Linked DNA regions of Homo sapiens: region 2 is linked to region 1. The links come from fine-mapping of genetic effects on gene expression. A gene starts in region 1. The other region holds a variant in brackets. All regions are shown on one strand. Distances are from middle to middle.

Evidence for each region. PIP is the estimated chance that this variant, and not a neighbour inherited with it, causes the effect. A credible set is the group of variants that fine-mapping cannot tell apart.
Region 2: its variant is the best candidate, but not a certain one, in a credible set for the expression of MTA1-DT in fibroblasts (GTEx, PIP 0.71).

Annotation. Positions count from the first base shown.
Region 1 is chr14:105,417,952-105,420,843 of GRCh38, reverse strand. It overlaps MTA1-DT (MTA1 divergent transcript), which reads left to right and starts at 1,105. Exons shown (of 2, transcript NR_125385.1): 1 at 1,105-1,822; 2 at 2,535-2,892. MTA1 (metastasis associated 1) reads right to left here and starts at 1,017. Exons shown (of 21, transcript NM_004689.4): 1 at 781-1,017. The coding sequence starts at 808. RefSeq lists silencers at 924-1,183, 1,274-1,323, 1,354-1,453 and an enhancer at 2,151-2,820.
Region 2 is chr14:105,438,496-105,441,387 of GRCh38, reverse strand. MTA1 (metastasis associated 1) reads right to left here. Exons shown (of 21, transcript NM_004689.4): 2 at 2,649-2,716. Among named protein-coding and RNA genes, the nearest start is that of MTA1, 20 kb to the right of the region's middle. The variant T/G (reference allele first, on the strand shown) is at 1,203.

The DNA of each region.
Region 1 (2,892 bases):
ACCTTCCTGTGAAAGACCCCACGGAGTCCCAGGCACACGAAGGAGGGCAAGGCTCAAAGCTGCAGGCCCGGGGGGCCCGAGCAACAGGAGGCTGGGCCCACGGAGGAAGCCCCTGCCCAGGAGGCCCTCCGGCCTCTCCCCAACCCTTGCAAAGCGCCTCCCGAATGGGCTGAGGTGAGCGAGAGGCAGGGAAAAGTTTGGGGGGACTTAGAGGCGTGCTCGGGATGCTCGCTCCCTGCTGAAGACCCCCTGAGGGATCCCTGCTGGGGGAAGCCCCGGGGCCAGGCTGCAGGAGGGCTCTAGGGAGGAACGTGGCCCCTCACCGGGGCTCCCCATCCCCAGAGGGGATGCACCGGAGTCCCAGCACAGGGCCGCGGGCCGGGGGAGACCCCACAGCCCCAAAACTCCTGCTCCCAGACCGGCAGCCGGCGCCTCCCAAGGCCACGTGCTCCCGCTGGGGGCTCCCGGCCCCGGACCCCCGGATGTCCCGCAGGCCCCGCGCCCCCCCGCCACCCCCGCGGCCGCCCCCTCGGCCCCAACAGGTGGGCCGCCCCCCACCCCCGGGCCGCCGAGCCCCGCCCGCCCCCGATGGGGCCGACCCGCGGGGCCATTTTGGGTTGGGGTGAGCACGGCGGGGGGCGGTTCGGGAAGGAGCCGGGGGCCGCGAGGGCGGGCGGGGGGCGCGGGGCCTGCGGGGCAGAGGGGCGGGGGAGGCGGCAGCGGCGGCGGGTGGGGGCTGCGGGCGGGTCGGGGCCGGGCATAAAGGCGGTGCGGCCTTACCTCCGACCCTGTACATGTTGGCGGCCATGTCCGGGCCGGCGGCGGCGGAGGGGCCCGGGGCGGGCGCGGCGCTCGGCGCGGGCGGCCGGGAAAATGGAGGCGCGATGGCGGGGGCGGGGGGCGCCGCAGGCGTTTAAAGGGGCCGCGCTGCTGCCGCCGCCGCCGCCGCCGCCGCCGCCGAGGCCGCCGAGGCCGCGCAGGGACGGGAGGGCCGCGGCGCGGGCGGGAGAGGAAGAGGAGGAGCGGCCGCGGGCGGCGGGGAGGGGCCTCGGGCGCCGCCGCCCACCGCACGGGCCGTTACCGACCCCGCGCCGCCCGCGGCCCGCGCGCCCCTTCCCGGACAGTTCCTCTCGGCGCCCCCGAGTCCTCCCCGCGCGCCGCTTCCCGGGTGGGCCCTTCCACCAGAACCCCCTGGTAGATCCTCCCCTGGTGCCCTGGGGGTAGAGGGGAGATCCTCCACAAGGGCCATTTCCCTGGTGATCCCTCCCTGTGCCCCACAGGTGAGTCCTGCCGTAGCTCTCCAGGGGTTCCTCCTGATGCTGGGGTCCTCCGGCATTCCTCCCTGAGCCCCCCAAGGGCCCTGAAGCTCAGCGGCCCAGCCCTGGCCTCGGGGTCCCCACCCCACACCTCCCTTCCAGGCCTAACCTTTGCCCCCGACACCAGGCAGGGCGTGTCCTTGGCCTTCGCCGCCCAGCCCGCGTGGCATCTCTGGACAGGTGGTCGTGCGCGCCTTGGTGTGGGCAGGCTCCGTAGCCGGCAAAGCCTCCCTGAACCGTGACCTGGTGAGAAGGCCGCAGAGGAGGTGCCTGTGCCCAGAGGCCACCTCCAAAGACCCCACCTGAGGCTGGAACCCAGCGCCTGCTGACCCCGCCAGCCCCAACAGGGCTGGAGTCCAGGAGCGGCCGTGCTCTTTCCGCAGTGAGGCAGCTGCCTTCTCTTCCCACCACCTGTCAGGATGCCTTCCCGTGTGTGCTTGTGCACAGGTCTAAGGAGAGGAGAGTCCAGTGAGTGACCCAGACGCCCCAGCCAGGAAGAGCATGAGGTGCGAAGGGGGCTTCCCAGATGGAGAGAAACAGATGGTCCCAGAGTGGCTTGGAGACAGGTGCAACATCAGTGTTGGGGGAGGTGAGCAAAAGGAGCTGTCTCGGGGTTCCAGGCTGCTGATGTGAGCAGCACCGTGGGTCTCTGTCCTGCCTGCTCAGATGCTGGAGGGAGCTGACATCTACTTGGGACATCCCTCTCTGTAGGACATGGAGCGGAGCGTTCAGGGCTATCAGGAGGGAGCCCCGTGGCCACGGTGCAAGATCTAGGCAGGCGGGACAGACATGGTCAGGATGCTGGGGACACAGCATGGGGAATCCAGCACACAGGACACCATCCAGGTGGGTAGGAAACAGCATGTGCTGGGAGGAAAGCCAGGTGGGGGTCCCAAGGAGAGCGGTGGCCACAATGTCATGGCTGCAGAGCAGACCAGTAAGGAAAGCCCCACCAGGGTTAGCACAGGGCCAGGAACCCGAGCTGCAGGGCGGTGCTGTCTCTGGGGAGAGAGGGCTATGGGTCCCAGGACACATCCTGCGGGCTGGGCTGCAGGGAACAGGAGCTGGCTTGCTGGTGATTGGGAGGGAAGAGCAGCCAGCCAGCGGCCAGGTGCAGGAGAGGGGCAATGACAGACAGGCAGCGTCTCTCCAGAAGGAAGGTGGGGCTGCTGGCCTCCCCTGTCCTACAGCCCCAGCCTACCTCTGTCTCCTCAGCAGGAAAGCAAAGCTGCAGCCTGAGATCTCCTTCCACCAACTCCTGGCATGGCCAGAAAGTTAGCCAGAAACACCAGAAAGTGCCAGGCAGCTAGGAAGCATGGGGAGAGCCCCCTGAAGCTGCGTGTGTAGTGCCTGCTTCCGCTGCCATCCCAGAAATGGACGAGCTTCACCCTGAGAACCCAGCCACACCACTGGGACACATCCTGACAGTGACATGCACACTCTTCCCTGGCCCCAGCCTGGAGAGGAGCCTCCTGAAGACACCAGCCTTTGCTCCTTCTCCCAGTGGGAGTGGAGAGAACTGACTGCTGGAGTGGAGACAGTCAAGGCTGTCCTTCTGAGGGAGCACAGCACAGGG
Region 2 (2,892 bases), 21 kb before region 1:
CTGCACCCATGGGTGCTGGGGTAGCGGGCATTCTGCTGGGTCCCCGATGCCAGCAGCTGGGTCTGTGGGCTTTAGAAGTCTGGCCGCTAGGGTCCTGGGAGCCAAGGAGGCAAGAGGGGCGGGGGGGCCCACCAGGGGACAGGCCATGAGCCAGGCGATCCCCACTTCCAGCCCCCGCACGAACTGTGCTGGCCTGGGTCTGGTGCCCCAAATCTGGGTCCTCTGAGTCCACTGCTCCAGCCCAGGGAAGGGCTCTGTGGGACCACCTGACCCCCCAGACAGGCCTTCCGCGCTGCCAGCCACATGTCACCATGGTTCCTGTTCTCCCCATCCTGACCCAGGCCAGGGCCAGGGCCTCTCAGGTTGCCCAGTCTGCCTGGCTGCCTTCCAAGCTGTGCCCATACCTCCCAGTGGCACCGCCTCTCCCACCTTCCTTGCCCTGTGGGTGCAGAGCCCCAGCACCACTTTCTTGTTATTTGAGGGGGCGTTCAGTCCAGGGAACAGAGGGGAGGTCTGTACTCAACCAGCTGCGCCCACCTGGAAGCCCCGCCTGGAGCTCCTTGGCGTGGAGGGCACTGGCCGCACTCTGTCGCAGGCCTGCGGGTTCTTTTCCACATGGTGAGCGTCTGGCTCGGCTGCCCTGCCTGAACAGTCCAAGAGAGTAGTCGTGCCCCTCACAGGCTGGTGTCCCGCCCAGAGACAGGCAAGTGCCCACGCCATGTGGCCCTGGCCCTGAGGAGGAGGGAGTCCTAGGACGAAGGGGACGCCTCTGAGCGTGTGCAATGCTACATGTGTAACTGAACATCGCCCAAGGGCTGGAAGCCAGCCCCCTGCCTGCACACGCCTGCAATCTACTGTCTGCACATGGAAGCCGGAAGCAGCACGAGGGAACCTTCCTGACAGTGGCACCTCCCAGCAGTGGCACTCGGCCAGGCGCCCACGGAGGCACTGCAGCCTCCCGCCCCGGGTTGCCTGCCAGCTGGCTGTGTGGGGCCAGCAGTGCCATCTGCCGGCCGCCCCTCCACTACACAGACCAGGAGGGACACAGGACCTCCCCCAGCCATGGTTCAGCGTCAGCTGAGGAACCTCCCTCTGCACCTGTTTCCCTACAGTCCACATGCTGGGATGCGTAAAGTGCTGCCCCGCACTCAGGAGGCTCAGCCACAGGAGTGGCGCCCCATTCCGGCAGTACCCAAGTGGCC[T/G]TGCTCTGCAGGCGGGCAGGCCCTGCCCAGCAGGGGCAGTGAGGCAGACTCAGAAGACACCCAGGTCATTGCCTGTGCCTCCAACAAACAGGCCTGGCCCTCAGACCTCCCAGGAAGCTGCGGGGGAGCAGATGTCGCACCCCATGCTCCTCGGCCCCAGGTGGTGGCAGATACCGCAGGGAATGGCCCTCGACAAGCGCAGCCAGGGAAGCCCGGAGCCCAGCATGGCTACGTCAGAGGTGGCGCGCTAACCTTCCCCCCGCTGCCCCCTCTGATCCCAAGAACCCCACGTCACCGCTGCCACCAAGCCTGAGGTCCAGGAAGGCAGCTTCTCCCAGGTGAGCCTGCAGCATCCAGATGGAACACCAAGGGCCCGAGTGCCCCAGGCCTGCCGAGTGGGCAGGGCTCCTAGGAGAAGGCAGCCATCGGGCCACTGGCTCCAGGGGATCGGGGGCTCAGGAGCCCTGCAGGCAGGCACAGAGAGGTCTGTGAAGCACCCAGCACCCCACCCCACTCTCTGCTGGAACCATGTGTCCACTGGTGGGGACAACCTGCCCTCCCTCAACACCCTTAGAAAGTCTCCAACCAGGAGGAGGAGAAGGGACGCTGGGGGACCCACCCACCACCCCTGAGGACAGCGAGAAGGCTCCCAGGGTGTGCGGGCGCCCTACACCTCCATGGCCATCTACGGCTCTGTCTCCCGAGCTGATGGGACGGAGGCTGTGCCGAGGCAGTGGAGGCCAGGAGTGGCTGGGGCTGAGGGGCCCATGTGTCACCACCCCCCAGGAAGGATCTGGTGCTGCCAGGCTCAATGCATGGGCACAACCACGTCCCCCGACCAAACAGCAAGCAACTGCCAAGGACTCATGGCAGACACAAACCAGGTGGGAGCAAGGGCTGCCTGAGTGACCAGGGAGGGCGCTTCCAGCCACGCAGACACCTCAGGGTTGGGGGCAGAGCTCACAGCCCTGCAGGGCTGCCTGAGTGACCAGGGAGGGTGCTTCCAGCCATGCAGACACCTCAGGGGTGGGGGCAGAGCTCACAGCCCTGCAGGGCTGGCTGCCAGGGTTCGGGCAGGGCAGGGGCACCGAGTATGGCTTTCTGCAGCCTTTGGTTGGTTTCAGAATCACACCATTCCGCTCGGGCTCCCCAGGGGACACTGGCATCTTCAGGGGACCCAGCACCCACAGACCAAGTGTAGAGTGGGCAGGCAGCTCAGGGCAGCTGCGCTGGGTCCTGCATGAGGCCACCAGGCCCCTCACTCAGTATCTCCAAGGAGGAGCCACGGTGCAGGTGACAGTGGACGGAGTCACTGAAGGGCCTGTGCAGTGGCCAGTCCAAGATCAGCCCCGAAAGGGGGCCACCCACACTGGCCACCCACAGGGCAGGAGCTGGCGTAGCCCCCACCCACTACCCCCCTGCAGCAACACCAGGGCCCCCCAGTACCTTGTTGAGCTCCTCGATTCTCCGGATCAGGTATGGGTTGCTGGAGGAGTTCTCAAAGTAGACGTAGTCTGCAAACAGCAACAGAGAGAGTGCCACCTGTGGCACCAAAGGCCAGACCCAGTCCCACCTCCCGTGGCCCAGGGACTCGGGGCTCAGGCGGGGCAGTGTCATCCCCTCACCTCTGCTCCCTCAGGCGAGGAATAAACAGAGGAAGCGAAGCCCCCACACCATCAGGGAGGGGTGG